3 linked regions of the Homo sapiens genome follow. The protein of the gene in region 1 purifies or fractionates together with the protein of each later gene. This does not show direct contact. Each region holds a gene or a part of one and is shown in the gene's direction. Other genes may lie near its edges. The genes, in order: PIPOX, ZNF217 and NAPG.

Region 1 (7,265 bases):
TAGCTACGTAGTATTCCATTGTGCCAGCGAGCCAGAGCTTGTTCAGCCATTCCTTGTGGTTGAGTTATTTCCCATTTTTTTATATTGTAAAAGCACAGATATCAATATCTTCATACCTTTGTCTCCCCTTGGGATATGGTTCCCCAGGTTGAATTTCTAGGTCAGAAGGTTTGAGCTGTTTTACCCGGATTGCTGTGTATTGCCTCAGCCACCTCCAGGAGATCCTGACAACCCAAATTGCCACCCTCCTCTATCTCTGTCCCCACAGCACTGACAACATAAGAGATTGTCATTTTTATTTATTTTTGCTAATTTAATAGGCACATAATAGTACCTTGAAGTTATTTAATTCCCATTTCTTTCATTGCTAGTGAGACTGGGCACACTTCCATGTGAGGATTTATTGTCTGCTTTTCCTTGTACGTAAACTGTTCATCTCCTCTGACATCTTATCAAGAGAAATCTGGGGGCTGATCTTATATATTTATATCAAGCCTTTACATACTCAGATAGTACATTTTTCTCGGTTATGTCAGCCATTTTTTATTCTGGGGAGCTGTCCAGTTGTGATGTGGATGCTGGCCTGTTCCGGGGGGTGGGAGTGGCATATGGAGTTGTGAGGATTTCTGGACTCTTGAAATATACATACATATATATATATATATATATATATATATATATATATATATATTCTGGGGTTTTTTTTTTTTAGAAGAAAAAAAAGCCAAGCATGGTAGGTTTTGCTTGTAACCTAGCACTTTTTTTTTTTTTTTTTTTTTTTTTAGGCAGGCTTGCTCTGTCGCCCAGGCTGGAGTACAGTGGCACAATCTCGGTTCACTGCAACCTCCGCCTCCCGGGTTCAAGGGATTGTCTTGCCTCAGCCACCTGAGTAGGTGGGATTACAGGCCTGCACTACCACACCCAGCCAATTTTTGTATTTTTAAGTAGAGACAGGGTTTCGCCATGTTGGCCAGGATGGTCTTGAACTCCTTGCCTCTAAAGATCCTCCCACCTCGACCTCCCAAAGTGATAAGATAACAGGCGTGAGCCATCGCACCCAGCCAGTCCCAGCACTTTGAGAGGCCTACGTGGGCAGATTGCTTGAGCCCAGGAGTTTGAGACCAGCCTGGGCAGCATGGCAAAACTCTTGTCTCTACAAAAAATAAGCTGGGCGTGGTAGTGCACTCCTGTGGTCCCAGCTACTCAGGGGGCTGAGGTGGGAGGATCAGCAGAGCCTGGGAATTTGAGACTGCAGTGAGCTATGATCACACCACTGCACTCCAGCCTGGGTGACAGACTGAAATCCTGTAACAGGAAAAAAAAAAAAAAGATAAAGAAAAATCCAGTCCGATGGCACCTCCTCTCTGGGCTCCTGTTTTCCTAAGAACAAAAGGGCTAGGCTGAGAGGACAGCCAGTTGCCAAGATCAGTCTGGGGGATTACTTGTGGAATGAGAAGCATTGCTGGCGGCCTTGGCAGGCCACTGTAAGGAGGCAGGGCAGCTCCCTGTAGTCATGTGGGTTTCCTGGACCATTATTTTCTCCCACTCATTGTGGGAGAAATAGCAAAATATTGAAATCGGAATCATCATTACAAGTTCTGACTCATCCTCAGTAAAGCACAGTGGTTAAAGGAACGGATTCTGGGGCAGACAGACCTAGGTTCACAGTTCAGTGTCTTTCTTTTCTTTCTTTCTTTTTTTTTTTTTTTTTTCCATAGAGCTGGAATCTTGCTCCATTGCCCAGGCTGGAGTACAATGGTGTGATTATAGCTCACTGCAGCCTCAAACTCCTGGGCTCAAGTGACCCTCCTGCCTCAGCCTCCCAAGTAAGTAAGACTACAGGCATGCACCACCATCCCTGGCTAATTTTTAACATTTTTTGTAGAGATGCGGTCTTGCTATGTTGCCCAGACTGGTCTCAAACTTCTGGCCTCAAGTGATTCTCCCGCCTCGGCCTCTCAAAGTGTTGGGATTACAGACGTGAGCCACTGTGCCCAGCCTCAGTGTCTTTGTATACCAGGGGTGTTGCTTTGGGTAAGATAGAATCTCTCTAAGCCTTCACGTCTTCAGCCATTAAGTAATATTTTGGTTATGGCTGTGTAAAAAACCTCCCCAAAATGTTGTGGCTGAAAACAACAACCATTTTATTCTGTTTCATGGTTTTGTGGATCAGGAATGAAGCTTGACTGGGTGATTCTTCTGCACTATGCAGCATCAATTGGGTCACTTGGTACTATTTGGCTGGTGCTAGGCTGGGCTGGAGGAACCAAGATGACTTCACTTTTCTTTGAGACAAGGTCTTGCTATGTTGCACAGGTTTGTCTGGAACTCCTGGCCTCAAGCGATCCTTCCTGACTCAGCCTCCCAAACCAAGATAACTTCATTCTTATATAGAGTTCTCCACCTGGTCCCAGGTCCTCTCCATGTGAACTCTCCCATAGGGTGCCTGCACTTCTAACATGGTGGCTCAGGGCTCAGAGAGTAAGGGCTCCTTGGCCAGGTGCGGTGGCTCATGCCTGTAACCCCAGCACTTTGGGAGGCCGAGGTGGTCGGATCATGAGGTCAGGAGTTCGAGACCAGCCTGGCCAATATGGTGAAACCCCGTCTCTACTAAAAATATGAAAAATTAGCTGGGTGTAGTGGCGCTCGCCTGTAGGCCCAGCTACTCGGGAAGCTGAGGCAGAAGAATCGCTTGAACCCACGAGTCAGAGGTTGCAGTGAGCCAAGATAGTGCCACTGCTCTCCTGCCTGGATGACAAAACGAGACTCCCTCTCAAAAAAAAAAAAAAAGTAAGGGCTCCAACATAAGAAGAGGAAGCTGCCAGTCTCTTTAGGGCTGTGCCAGAAAGTGTCATGGTATCACTTTTGCCATATTTTATGGGTCAAGCAGTCACAGAGTCTGTGATAGAAGGAGTGAAAAAGAATTTGGGGCCATCCTTAATCTGCCAAAAGTAGGCATAAAAATACTCCTAAGCCAGGTGCAGTGTCTCACACCTGTAATCCAAGCTTTTGGGAGGATGAGGTGGGAGGATTGTATGAGTCCAGGAGTTCGAGACCAGCCTGAGCAACACAGTGAGCCCTCGTCTCTACAAAAAATAAACAAAATTAGCTGAGCATGGTGGCATGCGTTTGTAGTTTCAGCTACTCGGGCGGCTGAGGTAGGAGGACCCCTTGAGCCCAGGAAGTGGAGGCTACAGTGAGCCGAGTTCGTGCCACTGCACTCCAGCCTGCGTGACAGTGAGATCCCAGAGATCCTCTCAAAAACCAAAACTTCAAAAACAAAAACCCGCAGAAACTCCTAGGGCTATGAGGAGTAAATGAGATAACTCATGCAGAGGCAAATTTACCATGAAGCAAATGAAACTTCAACCATGGGGGTCCTTAATTGAACAGTTTCTTCCACATCCGGGCATCTAATTTTGTATTAATAATTCTCCTTTTTTCTTTTTCTCAAAGAGTACCCTCGAACTGTATGACAATCAAGCCCTACCCAAATGCCAGTATCAGTACTTACTAAGCATACTGCCTGGGACAGAGAGATGCTCAACACGGGGCCCCTCCAGGCACTGGGCTGGCCTGGTCCCCTCTCTGTGGCTGAGGAGAGGGCTCCTCCTCTCACTCTGCCCTTTCTGTCTTTTCAGGATCATTTCTTCTTTCTTCAAAATGAAAGTAAAACATGCTGGGAATAATTTCATAATTACAAAACTGCCCTCCCAATTGGCCCCTGCCTCTACCCCCTGACCTCACCACCCACCAGGGAGGTGGGTCTTATTCTGGGCATCGTGCCAAGTTCTTAGCGGGGCCCTCTAGAATCTCTAAAGCAAATCAGGCTGAAGAGGGGAAAACCAGCAGGGGGAGGCAGCATTCCCGGTGCCCAGTATGGTCTAGGAGGCATTGAAATTCCAGGGCCGAAGTCCTGAGACAAAGATCATAATGAGACAGGAAGGTGGCAAAGGAAGGAGCCCATTTGCATGACAATAATTGAGCCAAGAATAGAAAGCCACAGGGATGCAAGGGTGAGGCTGGCGGCTGAGCTGGGCTAAACCTCACAAATCAGACTACCCAGCTCTGCTCCGCAGGGGAAGGGAGACTGAGCCCTGGGCCAGGCTTGGCAGAGAGGGAAGCGGGAGGACACGACCCCAGGGCATTGTGGGAACACTGGCCAGGCTGGACTTTGCCTTCCTCCTCGTCCTTTAGCCGGGAGCCTGTCTTTGCTTGCCTTTGCCTTTGAGGCTCTGTGGCTGTGGGGCTGAGTGGCATCATGGCGGCTCAGAAAGATCTCTGGGACGCCATTGTGATTGGGGCGGGGATCCAGGGCTGCTTCACTGCATACCACCTGGCCAAACACAGGAAGAGGATCCTCCTGCTGGAGCAGGTACTGTGTCCCTTCTGCACCCCCAGCTGTAAGGACTGTCCTACCCTCCTCCCCTGCAGAAGGGTTTTCAGAGCCAGCAGGCTACAGGGCAAGGCCAAAGGGACTGAATCATCAAAAATTCTGTGTAATTTGTATCTTAGCTGCCTAGTGTGTTTCATGGCAATTCAAAGAAGTTTCACATCCCTCATACCCACATTGGGTTTCTAGGCACATTTCCTCTTTCTACTGCTTCCCAGTTCCTGCCCTTGACCAAGCGTCCTAGGCCCTGTTCTCTTCCTTCTCACTACTCTTTCCCTTCTGTGCCCAAATGGTTGATCCCCACCCCAGAAAAATAATTGGTTCTGCTCTAGGTAACCTAAAGTAAAGATAATTTTGCCTAGAGGCAAAGGTTGATTTATCAGCCTAAGAGGTAGGATTCTGTCTTGCATATTCCTGGCCTCTCACACCAGAACCCAGCAGAAGCTTCTGTTTTTTTTTTTTATTTTTTATTTTTTGCCACCTCCAGATAATAGCAGCCTCCTTGTTTGACACATGATAAGTGAGACTGAGGCCTTATTTTTCCTGCTACGCAGTGCAGTCTGCAGTGACCACTGCATATGTGGGTGGGCCCTGTGTGTCTGCAGGGTCCTTCGAGGACAGGGCCACCCAGCTATCCACTGCAGTGGACTCTCCCTTTCCATTCTGCCTGCAGCTACCCAGGCTGGCTATGGTTTGCTCTTCTTGGTAATGAGCCAGAGTAGTTAGAAACCTTCTTCATTTCTCTATCAGTTTTCTCAAAGCCCAAGGGATTCCTGGTTCATCCTCTCAGGAAACTCATTGTTGCTGAATCCTGAGGTGGTTCTCTTACCCTGAGTGATCTGTAGCCACAGAGAAATAAAGTCAGCATCAGTTTCCTTGTTCATAAAATGAAGGGGCTGGAGTAGTTGAACTGGAAGGTTTTTTCTAATTTTGCTTCTTTGTGAATCTAAGTGAGGTGAGATTGCAGCAGGATGGTTGAAGACTAGCTAACAAAAGAACTTCTGGATGTGAACAACGTTAGCAAAAAGGAAGCCTAAGTTAGTGCTATTGAAGAACTTCTATCTTGATTGCCAAGTCAGTAAATTGGTCATAAAGAGAGAATTTGGAAAGATTGTGTGAATTTTTTTTTGTGGGGGGACAGGATCTCACTCTATTGCACGGGCTGGAGTGCAGTGGTACTATCATAGTTCACTACAGCCTCAAACTCCTGGGCTCAAACAGTCCTCCTACCTCAGCCTTCCAAGTAGCTGGGACTACAAGTGCCACCACACCTGATAGTTTTTAAATTTTTGAGAAGACTGGGTCTTGCTATATTGCCTAAGCTGGTCTTGAATTCCTGGGCTCAAATTATCTTCCTGTGCATAATCCTTCCCCAGATTGTGTGGAAATATTTGAAGGATAAATGGCTCCTGGTTGACAGCACATGCTGATATGGCTCTTAACAGGGGATGCAGTGTGAGGGGTAATGGCTTCCATCATCTCTCTTGTTTTCCACTTCCAGTTCTTTCTACCACACTCCCGAGGAAGCTCCCATGGACAAAGCCGGATAATCCGAAAGGCGTACCTGGAAGACTTTTACACCCGGATGATGCATGAGTGCTATCAGATATGGGCCCAGCTGGAGCACGAGGCTGGAACCCAATTGCACAGGTGGGCTGTGGGAGGAATTCCTTGAATCGTGGGGCTCTGCACCTGCAGGTACTTTTAGTGTGTGAAGTGGCAGCGCCATGGAACATTTGGAATGCAATGGGAGGGACACAAGGCCTCAAGAAGTACCAGATGCATGGAAGAGTTCTGCTGTCATGGTGGTCACCCCACAGGTCCAGCTGACTCTGGCCAGGCTCTGCGTTGCAGGACTGGGTTCAGACCATGTGTCCAAGGCTAGCAGAAGCAGTACTGGAAAGCCTGCTGGCAAGGCACCGTGTGGCAGATGCCCAGAGTGGACAGGAGTCTGCTGGAGTGTGTATTTTCAACTCTGTGGAGGCCTCTGCAACTCTTTTAGGGCAGGGGTTGAGATAGAGGAGGAGGCTGCTTTCAGGAGGATTCTTTTTTTTTTTTTTTTTTTTTTTTTTTTGACAGAGTCTCGCTTTTTTGTCAGGCTGGAGTGTAGTGGCGCCATCTTGGCTCACTGCAACCTCCACCTCCCGGGTTCAAGTGATTCTTCTGCTTCAGCCTCCCGGGCAGCTGGGACTACAGGTGCGCACCACCACACCCAGCTAATTTTTGTATTTTTAGTAGAGACAGGGTTTCACCATGTTGGCCAGGATGGTCTTGATCTCTCGACCTCATGATCTGCCCTTCTCGGCCCCCCTAAGTACTGGGATTACAGGTGTGAGCCACCGTGCCTGGCCCAGGATTCTTTATAGTCAAATCAACATCCTAACTTTTCCTGAGGGGTCCTCACCCCCTTTAGCAGCCCTATAAACCCATTTTGTTCTCTCTGAGTACCTTTTCCTGTAGGAACAAAATGGGGACGTTCCCCAGGCTGGATTGCTTGCCAGGGAGTGAGCCTCCACGTCTTTCTCTGCTGCCTTCATGGCTCTCTCCAACCCTTGACCTTTCAAACACTCATGGGAAAGAAAGCCAATAATCTGTGATGCAATGGGAACTTTAACCATCCCACCTCCCTCCCACCTCCTCTGTGACTCTTAACTGAACTTCCTACAAACCCTGGCTCTACCTGATAGGGTGGTGGTTATTTTAATGGCCAGGAACCAAGAGGTTAGTGTTCTGTTGCAAAAATACCATTAACTTAAGAACAAAGTGAAATCCATTATGCAAATCAGCCAGGGCAGCTAATTACAGATTTATTCAGAGGCAGCTAATGCACCCAGCACCCAAATAAAGGAGCATGTCTTGCTGGTGGGTGGCC
Region 2 (7,109 bases), on another chromosome or scaffold:
CCTATTTGTTGTTTGGACTAGGAAGCCCCACCCAGTGCTTGTTGAAGGCAGAAAGTCGTTGAAAGCAAGCTGGGATTTGAACAGTGGATTGAGGTTTCGAATATCCAGTGAACCAAAATATATCAGGGTTCCCCTGGCCAAGATGAGTGACCATTCTGAGGTGTTAAGTATTTCTTGAATGGGGATTTTAGGAAAAGTTTCTGTATTTCTGTGCTCATTTTGTTGACCTCTGTATGTGCAAAATCTCTAAGGGGGTGTTTGGGCACTTAGATTTCTTGGATGCAGATTTGTTTGTATATGAAACAAATTTTAAATTGTTTTGTATACACTGGATTTAAAATAGTTTACTAAAGTGTTTTAATTTTTTCATCTTAATTTTCACAGTTCTTATAGTCTTTAGATTTAGGGAGGCTGTTGATGGCATCCACATGTGCATTTTAGTGGCATTTAAAATGTATTCAGCTGAATTTAACAATTTCTGACCTAAAACTTGACATTTTAGATTTAAGTCGGTAAAGCACTGATTTAAACTGGATTTTAACTGGATGAAATTCTGATTTAATAAGTGTACTGACTGGATAAAATGCCAATGATTTAATTAACAAGCACGTTTAACAGGATGCCCTATATATTAGTTAAAAGTGAAGCAATTGAATTAGGTACCTTCTCTGCTGCGTGGAAAAGACCGTATGACTCACCCACACCAGCCTTCTCTTCGCTCTGAGTGTAGCTAACCGTTTCTGTTTTTTTTCCTCTAGGGTTTGGAAATCCCTTGTCTCCAGGTTGCTGGGATTGACTTCTTGCTCAATTGAAACACTCATTCAATGGAGACAAAGAGAACTAATGCTTTGTGCTGATTCATATTTGAATCGAGGCATTGGGAACCCTGTATGCCTTGTTTGTGGAAAGAACCAGTGACACCATCACTGAGCTTCCTAAAAGTTCGAAGAAGTTAGAGGACTATACACTTTCTTTTGAACTTTTATAATAAATATTTGCTCTGGTTTTTGGAACCCAGGGCTGTTAGAGGGGTGAGTGACAAGTCTTACAAGTGGCCTTATTCCAACTCCAGAAATTGCCCAACGGAACTTTGAGATTATATGCAATCGAAAGTGACAGGAAACATGCCAACTCAATCCCTCTTAATGTACATGGATGGGCCAGAAGTGATTGGCAGCTCTCTTGGCAGTCCGATGGAGATGGAGGATGCCTTGTCAATGAAAGGGACCGCTGTTGTTCCATTCCGAGCTACACAAGAAAAAAATGTCATCCAAATCGAGGGGTATATGCCCTTGGATTGCATGTTCTGCAGCCAGACCTTCACACATTCAGAAGACCTTAATAAACATGTCTTAATGCAACACCGGCCTACCCTCTGTGAACCAGCAGTTCTTCGGGTTGAAGCAGAGTATCTCAGTCCGCTTGATAAAAGTCAAGTGCGAACAGAACCTCCCAAGGAAAAGAATTGCAAGGAAAATGAATTTAGCTGTGAGGTATGTGGGCAGACATTTAGAGTCGCTTTTGATGTTGAGATCCACATGAGAACACACAAAGATTCTTTCACTTACGGGTGTAACATGTGCGGAAGAAGATTCAAGGAGCCTTGGTTTCTTAAAAATCACATGCGGACACATAATGGCAAATCGGGGGCCAGAAGCAAACTGCAGCAAGGCTTGGAGAGTAGTCCAGCAACGATCAACGAGGTCGTCCAGGTGCACGCGGCCGAGAGCATCTCCTCTCCTTACAAAATCTGCATGGTTTGTGGCTTCCTATTTCCAAATAAAGAAAGTCTAATTGAGCACCGCAAGGTGCACACCAAAAAAACTGCTTTCGGTACCAGCAGCGCGCAGACAGACTCTCCACAAGGAGGAATGCCGTCCTCGAGGGAGGACTTCCTGCAGTTGTTCAACTTGAGACCAAAATCTCACCCTGAAACGGGGAAGAAGCCTGTCAGATGCATCCCTCAGCTCGATCCGTTCACCACCTTCCAGGCTTGGCAGCTGGCTACCAAAGGAAAAGTTGCCATTTGCCAAGAAGTGAAGGAATCGGGGCAAGAAGGGAGCACCGACAACGACGATTCGAGTTCCGAGAAGGAGCTTGGAGAAACAAATAAGGGCAGTTGTGCAGGCCTCTCGCAAGAGAAAGAGAAGTGCAAACACTCCCACGGCGAAGCGCCCTCCGTGGACGCGGATCCCAAGTTACCCAGTAGCAAGGAGAAGCCCACTCACTGCTCCGAGTGCGGCAAAGCTTTCAGAACCTACCACCAGCTGGTCTTGCACTCCAGGGTCCACAAGAAGGACCGGAGGGCCGGCGCGGAGTCGCCCACCATGTCTGTGGACGGGAGGCAGCCGGGGACGTGTTCTCCTGACCTCGCCGCCCCTCTGGATGAAAATGGAGCCGTGGATCGAGGGGAAGGTGGTTCTGAAGACGGATCTGAGGATGGGCTTCCCGAAGGAATCCATCTGGGTAAGCTGCCCTGTCTCCGTCCCGTGCTGTTCCGCCTGTGTCTGTCTGTCTCCCCGTCTCCCCCTCTCTATTCCCATCTCCAGACAACGCTGGCCAGGAATGGGGTTTGGAGAGCCAGAGTCAAGTCCAGGCTCTTTTTGGTATCACTCTGTGTAAGTCATTTAACCTCTCAGGGCCTTAATTTTCTCATTTCTGTAATAACAGGGTTGAGTTAAGAGGTCTCCTTGTTCTGAAAATATATATATATTTTTTAAACGTGTATCGTTTTGCTCACAAAACACACTTTAAAAAAAAAATAACTTGTGCATCCAGCCCAAATGCACTGCTTCTTAACTGGGGCGATTTTGTTCCCAATCAGTATCTGGCAATGTCTGGAGGCATTTTGGTTGTCATACTGTGTGTGTGGGTGTGCCTGCTGGCATCCAGTGGGCAGAGGCCAGGGACACTGCTCAGCATGGTACAGTGCACAGGACAGCCCCATCATCAAAGAATTATCTGGTCCCAAATGTCAATAGTTTGAGCATTGAGAGACCCTAGCCTTCACTTAAGTTTTTCTGGCGTTCCTGATCTTTTTCTGTAGTGAATTTCTAGTGGCCATAAAAGGTACTGGGAGTGATGATCAACTAGAGCCAGGAATATTATTTGGGCAGCCGTTTGGTGCTGTCCAAAACCTTGTCCTTTCTGTCTGGCAAGCTAGTATCCATTTATAGGTACCTCAGGAACCCAAATGATTTGTCATAAAATACAAGGAATGTGAGCACACTGAAGACATTTTTAAGAAGGCTCATTTGCTCAGCAGAATTTTCAGTGTACTAGTGGCATTTATAGAAAGAGAAGGTGATCACTGAAGGCATGCTCACATAATATTCCTGAGCCCTGGTGGGCGTTATCTAGGGCAAAGGATTCCACCTGTGTTTGGAGTTGCGCCCATCCTCACTGTAGCCAGAGCTTCTCCTATCAGAGTTTAGTATTTTGTTTGAATAGAGGATCTTGCTGCTTAAAACAGTTGAAAAGACCCTGATGGGCAGGCCGTAATTGACAAGCGAATGATGGGAACATGAATCGGTCTTAGGGAAGCATCTGTCAAAGTGGTCCTCGGTTAAAACAAGTGCCTCCTCCTCTCAGTGTCACTTGATTGTGTGCTTGAATTCTTCGGAAAACTGGGTGTATGAGACCCACGATGAATTTGCCCACACGATTGATTGGACTCTTCCTTCACCTGCTCTTCAGCCAGTGCCAGTTCCTTTTCTGATCATGTGATTGACGTGAGAACTGTAGTCTGTATATCAAATCTTTAGAATGTTTTTGAGTTTCCTGGGACACAGGAAACCCAGCACTTAGCATACTACAAATCTAATGTCTTAATGGCATCATAAAAAGAGGCTTTAAACACAGACTCCAGTTAGCTAAGTGGTTTCTGCTAGTGCCGGTACTGTTGCAGGGGCCCTGTGAGATGCCCCAGTTCCCTGAAAGAAATGAAAAGGCCAGTTACCGGTAGGTGGTGTGGAAAACATGGGCTAGATCATCAGGCAGGACAGAATGCCTGGCTGTGGGTGGGAGCACCCCAGCTTGGCGTTGAGTTCTGGTTCTACCACTGCGTTGTTTTGTGACCAATTATGAGTTGCTTAACCTTTCTTTGCTACTATTTCCCTGTTTGCAAAATGGTTCATTGACCCCTGTCTTCCACCTCCCAAGGACAATTTCAACAGCCTATTTGTAAAAAGATCACAGTCCTTTAAAAAATATAACTGTAAAGTCAGAGGTGATGCTTGAAAGAGCAGGAACCAGGTAGATGTGGAAATGTCATGTCCTTTGTTCTAAAGAAAAGGCATTTCATAGCTTTTTGGATATGACGCAACATACCATAAATCCTGACACATAGTTGGGAGTCGGAAATTGCAACAACGCCCAGTTATAAACCCAGCTAGTTTGGGTATGATTGTAAGAAAAAAAAGCTGGCCATTCTGTATTTGGGGAATTGATTTTCCTAAACTTATATTATCTTAGTAGTCTAGATTTATCATATTGTACTATCATCCTGGCTTTTTTAAGACTTAAGAAGATCAAGTAAATTTTTTTTTCTTTCTTTAGACACTATATAGATCATCAAGGGTGTCTGTCTTACAGGTGGATAGTGATATGATCTACAGTGAGGGGACATTTATTTAAAACTTAAACATTCATGTGTTTTGGGGGTGGTATTTTAACGGCAGCACCTCTGATTGTCTTTTGGAGGGCTGGTGTGTGTTTGAAGTTCTGTCCTCCTTCCAGTGGACTCTAACTTCTCCTGATGCACGTGAGACACATTGTCCTATTGTCCTGCAGAAACTAAAGCCAAACACTGTCATTTGGGGACAGGTTTTCATTTGTCAGATCTCTTTCGCCCACATGAGTGTTTGTGGACAATACAGCCTGCTTTCCAAAACTTTGCTAAATTTTGACAGACTTTCCTAGGTGCTTGCCCAATGCCAGACTTTCTTTTCTGTTGAAGATTAAGTTGTGCTTGCTGCCCTCTAGTGGTCAGTTGTTTAATCCTAACCTTAAACGGCTTATTTTTCCCCTGGTGGTTGGGAAGTTGACGGTTTGTAATTGGCTCATTTTTCTAAATTATTCTGAAGAAGATAATTTTTCCCGCCAGTATGTATGTCCACCTTCAGTTTGCCAGATCCTGCCTGCTCAGAGACACTGAGAACCGGAAGCTGCCCGGGCAATTCAGTCTATGAAATGATCTTTCTTGTGATTAAGGCAAACGAAGAACTGAATGTTTAATAGTGTACTCTGCTGTACCCAGAAAAAAACAAAACAAAATCATGTTATAACACTCTAAAACTTCAAACAACCTCCAACAGCATTTGGTGTGTGTCTAGCCGTTTTGTTCTAACCCGATGTTATATAAAAGAATTTTTTCATGCTTTCCAAAAATGTTTATGTCAAGAATATTTAAGTCAGCATGCCTTATTCAGGTACTTCAGCTACCTTCTTATATAAATATTTTTGTTTTTCCTTTAAGATAAAAATGATGATGGAGGAAAAATAAAACATCTTACATCTTCAAGAGAGTGTAGTTATTGTGGAAAGTTTTTCCGTTCAAATTATTACCTCAATATTCATCTCAGAACGCATACAGGTAAAGAACTTTTATTTTTTTAACCATGCATTAGTTAAATTATGTAGTTATCTAATTTTTTTGTTGTTGTTGTTCAGATACTCTGCCAGATCCTTGGACTAGCTTAAGGATAAATATGTAGCATGTTGATTGCAGTGGTTATTTTTATTCTTTTAGTGCCATTGTAACTTGAGCCATTGTTCTTATTTGCAGTTCATTTCTTTTCTTTCTTTTTTGTTTTTTGAGACGGAGTCTTGCTCTGTCACCTCGGCTGGAGTGCAGTGGTGCAATTTCGGCTCACTGCAGCCTCCACCTCCCTGGTTCAAGCAATACTCCTGCCTCAGCCTCCCCAGTAGTTGGGATTACAGGTACCTGCCACCACACCCGGCTAATTTCTGTATTTTTAGTAGAGATGGGGTTTCACCATGCTGGCCAGGCTGGTTTCGAACTCCTGACCTCAAGTGATCCGCTCACCTTGGCCTCCCATAGTGTTGGCCTCCCATAGTGCTGGGATTACAGGCGTGAGCCACCGCGCCCGGACAAAGTTCATTTGTTTAGTTTATGACTGCTATGTCCTGACTCTTATCTTATTAAAAGCTACAGTATTTTAAAATGCTGCATCTTATGTCTTTATGATTGAGAATGAAATGAGAATCTATTTAGTAGTCTTGAGATTGTGAAAGGAGCTATGACATCATGATGTAGGAGGCTGCGTAGATTTGAAATTTCATCTCTTCCACTTACTATCTGTGCACCCTTGGGCAAGTTATTTAACCTTTTTGTGCTTTTAGTTTTCTTTGCTGTAAAAGTAGAATAATACATATTTCCCTAGGGCTGTTAGGAAGATTAAATAAGTTAGAAGTGTTGCTGTTAATTTTTCTATTGAAGATAGGCATTCATAATTTCAAATATTCATTACAGTAAGGATGATAAAGAACTGATGAGAAATCCTATGTGATAGTAGATCGAGAAAGCAAAAGGAGGAAAGAAGCCTGTTTTCTTAATAAATAGATATTTGATCTATTTCAGTGCTTTTCATACACTTCTATAATAAAGTGCCATTTCTTGCCTTAGGTGAAAAACCATACAAATGTGAATTTTGTGAATATGCTGCAGCCCAGAAGACATCTCTGAGGTATCACTTGGAGAGACATCACAAGGAAAAACAAACCGATGTTGCTGCTGAAGTCAAGAACGATGGTAAAAATCAGGACACTGAAGATGCACTATTAACCGCTGACAGTGCGCAAACCAAAAATTTGAAAAGATTTTTTGATGGTGCCAAAGATGTTACAGGCAGTCCACCTGCAAAGCAGCTTAAGGAGATGCCTTCTGTTTTTCAGAATGTTCTGGGCAGCGCTGTCCTCTCACCAGCACACAAAGATACTCAGGATTTCCATAAAAATGCAGCTGATGACAGTGCTGATAAAGTGAATAAAAACCCTACCCCTGCTTACCTGGACCTGTTAAAAAAGAGATCAGCAGTTGAAACTCAGGCAAATAACCTCATCTGTAGAACCAAGGCGGATGTTACTCC
Region 3 (7,109 bases), on another chromosome or scaffold:
CCCCACACAGATGGTAATTTTGCTGTTTTCTTTTTTTCTGTGGAAATTGGTCAGTTTCCTTATTGATTCTTTGGAGAAAAAGGTCAAAAGGACTAACAGGTATGGCTGCTAAACCCAAATTAGCTGTATATCTTTCTTCCTTATTAGTGGTGTTCATGTGACTTGGGATGGTTTGCCCAGTTTTAAACTCTCTGGGTCTTTCCGTGTATAGCACATTAGGTGACGGAGTGATTGTATCTTGTTTTTAGTGGGATTAAAAAAATTATGTTAATATACAGAATGTAATGTTTGTTATGGGATAGGAACAGAGGGTTAGCATTTTGCATATTGCATATTTCCTCAATTTTGTAGATTTGAGTAGACACACCACAATTTAAGGATATTATTTTTCTGAACAGTGAAATTCTTGGTAAGCTTGAAAAATTGCTTATTTTAATTTGAATCTTGTAACACTATATACACAAACAAGTTTTAGATGCTAAATATGTTGAATAAATTTAATTGGCAAAAAATGTTACTGTAGCTGGCTGGGTACAGTGGCTCATGCCGGTAATTCTAGCTCTTTGGGAGGCCAAGGTGGGCGGATCACTTGAGGCCAGGAGTTCGAGACCACCTGGCCAACATGGCGAAACCTCTTCTCTACTAAAAATACAAAAATTAGCTGAGTGTGGTGGCACAAGCCTGTAATCCCGGCTACTGAGGAGGCTGAGGCACGAGAGTCACTTGAACCTGGGAGGCGGAAGTTGCAGTGAGCCGAGATAATACCACTGCACTCCAGCCTGGGTGACAGAGCGAGACCCTATCTCAAGAAAAAAAAAGAAGCTATGACTTTGTGGCAGTTCCCATGGCTGTCACATAATGAAGGCTGTACTTCTGAGTGCTCATACAGATGCCTCATCTTTCAGTTAAGATACTCCCCTGAGTCATTTGAAGCAAGCAGTGTTCTGTGCAAGCAGGCCTTCACTAATTGAATGACATTTAGAATTTACGATGGTTTGGGCAATTTCTATGCACACCCAAATTTGACAGTTACTGAATTAGTTTAAACTAAGTCTGAAATTATTTTAAAATAAGAAAATAAATATTGAGGAAAAGGCAAGTAAGTTAAGGATTCAAAATTGATTGTCCTTTGGTTTGGCATCCAAGAAGCCAGTAGTGATCCTAGAAAGCAGTTTCTCTTGGCTTTTGTAATATCCTTCCCTTTCTGATTATCCTTCTTGTTTATGGGTGGCGAGTTTTCACTTTTTTTTTTTTTTTTTTTTTTTTTTTTTGCCTACTTCCTCTGTTGTTTCACTGAATGATTGTATTCCTTAGTCTTTCTGTTCTCTCTCTGCAGTCTCACTAGGGGATCTGATCTCATCTATGCTCTTGACATATGCTTATGATGCCTCCATTTATGTCTCTAGACTCTTGTCTGTGCGTCAGTTTCATGAATCCCTCTGCTGTCGATACTGTGCTTCAGAGGTTCTAAAGCTTTAATGCACCTTTGAGCTCGTTAAACCTCAGAGGTGCTGTAGGCTTGGGATGGGGTCAACAATTTACGATTTTAGTAAGTTCCCAGTTAGTGCTGATGGTGCTGGTCCAGGGACCATGAATTGAGAACCTCTAGGAGGAAAACCACGTACCTGTGACAGTGGGAGTGAAAGAGGTGAGGTTGTGTTTGTTAGGCCTAAGTTTGGATGGAGGCGGGTGACACAGAGTTTGTGCCTGATGGTTTCTCCTTTTTTTTTTTTTTTTTAAAGACCTAGAAGGTCATTACAAGCAGAGATCTGACTTATAAATGTGGTTGGTAACTCCTGTTAACTGTGTTTTTTTCATTCTAGCCTGAAAACTGGTTTTTTAAAATGGAAGCCAGATTATGACAGTGCCGCTTCTGAATATGGAAAAGCAGGTATTTTTGACTATAGTCCAGTTGCTCCAGTATGTAATCTTAAAATAGTCTGATAACTTCATTTCACCATAATACTTACTCATATGCTTTCTATAAGGCTTTAATAGTTAAAAAACAAACAAAACAACTGTGCAAGCCCTTGAGTTTTTTTCCACTTGTTATTTTCAGATGTGTTGAGAGCTGAGTCAGAGTTCCTGGTACCTGCTGTCTATGACAGCAGGGATGGGGCGGGGTTGGTGATACACAGTAGTGGGTTTTTAGCGTTGCTTATATATTCTTTAACTCCAGTTATTTGAATACCATATCCATGAGTTTTGCCATATTTCTCTATTATACTTTCTATTGAATTAGGAGTTTGTTAAATTTTTTGTTAACTTAGCCTCATCTTAACCTGATACGCAAATCATATGTTTGCTTGGTATTTTATGTCTTTTATGAACCTCACTTTGAGTGTATCTGTTCAGTGTTCATGAAGTGTTAAGCTATATACATATTTTAATCAATTTATCTTTATATAAGATATAAACAATCTAAAATATGCAACAGAAAGGGAATTTACTAAAAATGTAGCATTCTGAATTACAGAATGATAGCTTTAAGCATACCTGTGATAATTTGCAGTATAAATATAACAAAATTTTGAAGTACCTTGAACACATTTTCAGTTGTATTTCAGCGATAGCCCTTATCACATTTGTTAGCCTAGCATAGAGATCATCTGGGGCAAGTGCTTTTGGTTAAACAGCAAATGAGTCTTCAGTACTTTTATTTAAATCTGAGTAAATTCTGTTTTTTTGCATCATGCAAATTGTTTATCTTATACTTGAAAATTATTAAAAGTTCAAACTTTGTATGAATTTTGTGGACTACTCATGCAAGGAGGCTTCTGTAGCAGAAGGGAACAACATTTTGCAAGTTTCCTCTGTGAGGGAAATTTAACACAGATTTGTTTTCTGCCCCTCTGAGATCATGAATTACATTCAAAAATAAATGTTTTAGATGAAATTTTCCCCCTGAAGCATCCTTTGTTTATTTTCTTTAAGGGCTTATGGAAAACCTATTTAATCAGAATAAATTTTTTAAAAAGCAACATATGGAAAAGCAGGGAGGGGAATAGCTTCAGTATTTGGTTTTCACATTTTATTAAAGAGAATTTTAAGAGTGTTTTTAACAAATAGCACTTTTCTTAAAGCATTATGCTTTTTGCTTCTTTGTAAGCAACCCTTGATAAGTTTTCCAAAATTTGTAAGATCATATGTTATAAGCACTCCTGTTTTGTTTTGATGATTACACTTTTAAAACAGCTTTCAGTATGCTTTAGCTGTTTGAACAGTGAGACATCTTTTTCATAGATAGTAAACAGTATAAAAGATTGTTTTTTTAAAAAAATGCATTGTTAGACATTTAAAGATTGTGCCAAAAGGAAGGTTTATTATAAAAAACTGTTAAATGTGCTTATTGGCCCTCAGTTTCTACCTAATCGAATGACCTATACCCAAAATACCGTTTAAAGGTAAAACTGGTGAAGTAAGGTGCTGTCTTTTGTGACTGAAGAATCTGCCGGTTACTGGGGAGTATTGGGGAGTGTTGGTGTTAGAAAGACTTCTTGATTTTGAGTGGAAGAAACACTGATTTGTTGCCAGTAGTCAACAATTAAAAAAGAAAAAGTTTTAAAAATACTCGTAAGTTACCAATAATTGGAAAAGTTGTAAGGAAATTGCTTTAGAAAAAAGTAATATTTTATAGTTTTAGGATACTTCCTAAGTATTTGAAGTAAGTATGTTTATAATACTTCATATAAAATGCAGATTTCAGTAATGATTCATTTGAGGTTTTTAATGATGGAAATAGTCAATTTTTTTTTCTATTTCAGCTGTTGCTTTTAAAAATGCCAAACAGTTTGAGCAAGCAAAAGATGCCTGCCTGAGGGAAGCTGTTGCCCATGAAAATAATAGGGCGTATCTTTTTCAACTTTTAAAAAGAAATTAAACAATTAGATGATTTTGACAAGCTGTTTTCTCTTGCTGTAAATTTACTTTACTACCTGTGAAGTAAAATGTTTTTAAATTAGAAAATGATTAGAAAAATTCTGTATTTTTAAACTATGAAGGAGCGTTTATAATGAAGTTTGATTATAAGGTCCACACTGGTTCGCAGAGCTACAATACTTACTTTCTATTGTTTGTGATTTTACTTGATGATGGTTTTACTTGGGATGAAGTAAAGTAAATCTGTAGACATGTGCTGAAGAATGAAGAAGTAGCACAGGTATTGAAAACACGTGAACTACTGTATCAATTTTTTTAAATACAGTTTTCCTTAGGTATTTGAAATAAAAATTATAAGTAGTTTAAAACAGTACATTTTCTTGAGGTGTTTGCAAACTTATCAATAAAAAATGTTTCTCTTATTTGCAAACTGTAGTCATAATAACTTTGTACTTCAGTAAAACTTCAGATTATTGCGTAATAGAAATAGTTTAAAATCTGTGCAGTGTTTTGTTAGTGGTTTTGGGAATTATGTAGTTTTAAACTATATTGACAGGTATTGAATTACTTCTTTTTTACCTGTTTGTAGGATTTGTCTTTTGGAACCAACTGGGTCAGTGATTTAGTTAACTGTCTTTAAATAGTTGATCTATAGAAACTATTGATTTTTTTCTTTTTTCCTTAACTTTGACTTCGTTACTTCCATTCAGTCTTTTTCATGCTGCCAAGTAAGTATTCTTCATGTTTTCATGTATTTGCAAATTATGTTTTAAATGTTGCTGTTTTTCTGTAGGTTGGTAATTTTTTCCCAAATTATAAATTTTGTATTGATTTAAATAATAATCATTTCTCTTTGCTTCAGTTTTTACCTAAACCTTAAAAACCAAGACTTACTCCTAACTGTAAGATGTAAAGAGTTTAAATTAAATTTGCCATAATATTTTATTAGGAGCATTTTGTTCAGTAGCCTATGGGAAAAAAATAAGTTAGGATCTCTTTTTTCCTCTGTTTGATAGTTAATGGTGCCTGTGGAGATGAAGCAGGAAGCTTTCTCTTGCCTTGTGGAGAGTAGTTATTTGTTGGCCGAGGCAGGCGGATCACTTGAGGTCAGGAGTTCAAGACCAGCCTGGCCAACTTGGTGAAAAACCTCGTCTCTACTAAAAATACAAAAATTAACTGGATGTGGTGGCACGTGCCTGTAATCTCAGCTGTTGGGGAGGCTGAGGCAGGAGACTTGCTTGAACCTGGGAGATGGAGGTTGCAGTGAGCTGAGATCGTGCCTCTGCTCTCCAGCCTGGGCGACACAGCAAGGCTCCATCCCAAAAACAAACAAACAAACAAAAAAACTTAGGTTTAGGTTTGTCAGATGGAAATTAATTTAACCTTACTGAGCCTTACTTAATTTTGCATCTGCAAAATAAAATCTCTTTAACTCAAATGTCTGATGTTCTAAGCCATTATTCCCCACAAAAAAAGAATAAAAAATTATATTGTGTGGTAATATAAGCCTGAAGTGATATGTTGTGCATGAGCCCATTGTAATTGAAGTCACTTTCCTTACCAGTAGTTCCTCACCAGAAAGTTTCTTCTACCCCTTATTTCGTTAAGATCTCATCAGAGAAATTATATTCTCTTTGCAGAGCTTATGAGCAAGCTGGAATGATGTTGAAGGTCAGTAATGTTATGTCACAATTGTTGTGTAGGTAAAATGAATTAACTACAAGGTGTTAAACAAGAATTTTTGTTGAAGTTGAAAAGCTTCCTTACTGTAAGGCAAGAGGTGCTAAGTTAAGATTTTCTGTCCACGGTAACGTTAATTGGACCCATAGAATACATTCTGTACGTCTTAAGGAATGTTAAAAGTGAAATTTAAGAGAAAATGTATTGGAGTGAACTGGGAACACTAATGTTCTAAGCTCTATAACCAGGATAGATGTGTATTGCTATAAAAAGAGCTCTATGGGAAGTTTCTCTACTTTTGAGAAGGACATCTAAATGTAGTAAAATTTTATAAATATTAAAAAATTATCATACATGGGTTATAGAAGAGATTTTTACTTATGTGAATAACAGTTGGCAGCAGAAACAACCACAGATTTAAGCTTTTGCTACTTTAATTCATTCTGCATGGAATATTCCAACTAATGTACCTGTGCCACTGTTTGTACTTCTGCTCCTCAAAAGCAGGCCAGGAATTAATGTCCTGCTGTGGTGAGACAGAACATACTACTTTATGATGCTGACTTTCAAAGTATGCCAGCTGGCAGTTGAAATGAAGTATTTGTCTTTCTTTTTTAAAAATGTTTTTTTCTAAAATGGTAAAAGCTACTTTCAAGTATTTATTATAAAGCTTTGTTTTTAAGAACTTTTACCTTAGTAAAGCTTTTGTTTTTAATTTCTATGACTTTTATAATGTGAACTTACTCATTTTTTTAGTGAACACATGCTCATTGTAGACAATAAAAAATACCGAAAAGTTAAAGAATGTTAGTAATAGCTGTTAACATACTTAGTTTAAAAGATTTTATAGTCTTTGACCCAGGAATTTCAATTCTGTGAGTCTATCATCGAGAGAGAGAGATCAAAGATTTATGCATCAGGTTGTTTCTTGAAGAAATGCCAATTATCTAAATTTTGAATAATAGGAAAGTGAGGTTGGATGTAGTGGCTCATGCCTGTAATCCCAGCACTTTGGGAGGCCAACGTGGGTGGATTACCTGAGATCAGGAGTTCGAGACCAGCCTGGCCAACATGGTGAAACCCTGTCTCTTCTAAAAATACAAAAATTAGCTGGGCATGGTGGCGGGCGCCTGTAATCCCAGCTACTTGGGAGGCTGAGGCAGGAGAATTGCTTGAACCCAGGAGGCAGAGTTTGCAGTGAGCCGAGATCGTGCCATTGCACTCCAGCCTGGGCAACAGAGCGAGACTCTGTCTCAAAGTAATAATAATAATAGGAAAGTGTTTAAATAAATTATGATGCTTCCTTATTATAAACTATTATATATCCATTGAAATAAAGCTTTTCTGGCCAAACATGCAACTGAATTGGTATTTGGTGCCGCAAGTTAGGTTATTAACCACAGTTCCTTTGAAACCATAGAGTTTCTCTTACGGCCAAAGAAGCTGGGGATCTGCTCTGGTCTTCTTATGTCTCATTTTCCTCTGAGAATTAGGAAGCTCCCAGGTGGCTGTTACATTCTTAGTGTACTTCATGCCTGTTTAAGAAATGC

Evidence for each region.
Region 2: the proteins of PIPOX (region 1) and ZNF217 purify together in Homo sapiens (affinity purification with mass spectrometry; 3 studies listed by BioGRID and IntAct, with this or other methods). This does not show direct contact.
Region 3: the proteins of PIPOX (region 1) and NAPG purify together in Homo sapiens (affinity purification with mass spectrometry; 3 studies listed by BioGRID and IntAct, with this or other methods). This does not show direct contact.

The regions. Positions count from the first base shown.
Region 1 is NC_000017.11:29,038,965-29,046,229, forward strand, and holds the start of PIPOX (peroxisomal sarcosine oxidase), read left to right. Parts: upstream 1-4,176; 5' UTR 4,177-4,261; coding exon 4,262-4,375; intron 4,376-5,894; coding exon 5,895-6,043; intron 6,044-7,265. UniProt on the Homo sapiens protein: Metabolizes sarcosine and L-pipecolic acid.
Region 2 is NC_000020.11:53,576,818-53,583,926, reverse strand, and holds part of ZNF217 (zinc finger protein 217), read left to right. Parts: exon of another isoform or gene 1-160; intron 161-758; 5' UTR 759-1,100; coding exon 1,101-2,466; intron 2,467-5,476; coding exon 5,477-5,593; intron 5,594-6,646; coding exon 6,647-7,109.
Region 3 is NC_000018.10:10,528,947-10,536,055, forward strand, and holds part of NAPG (gamma-soluble NSF attachment protein), read left to right. Parts: intron 1-54; coding exon of another isoform or gene 55-99; intron 100-1,823; coding exon 1,824-1,891; intron 1,892-3,764; coding exon 3,765-3,849; intron 3,850-4,575; exon of another isoform or gene 4,576-4,589; coding exon 4,590-4,607; intron 4,608-5,519; coding exon 5,520-5,550; intron 5,551-7,109. UniProt on the Homo sapiens protein: Required for vesicular transport between the endoplasmic reticulum and the Golgi apparatus.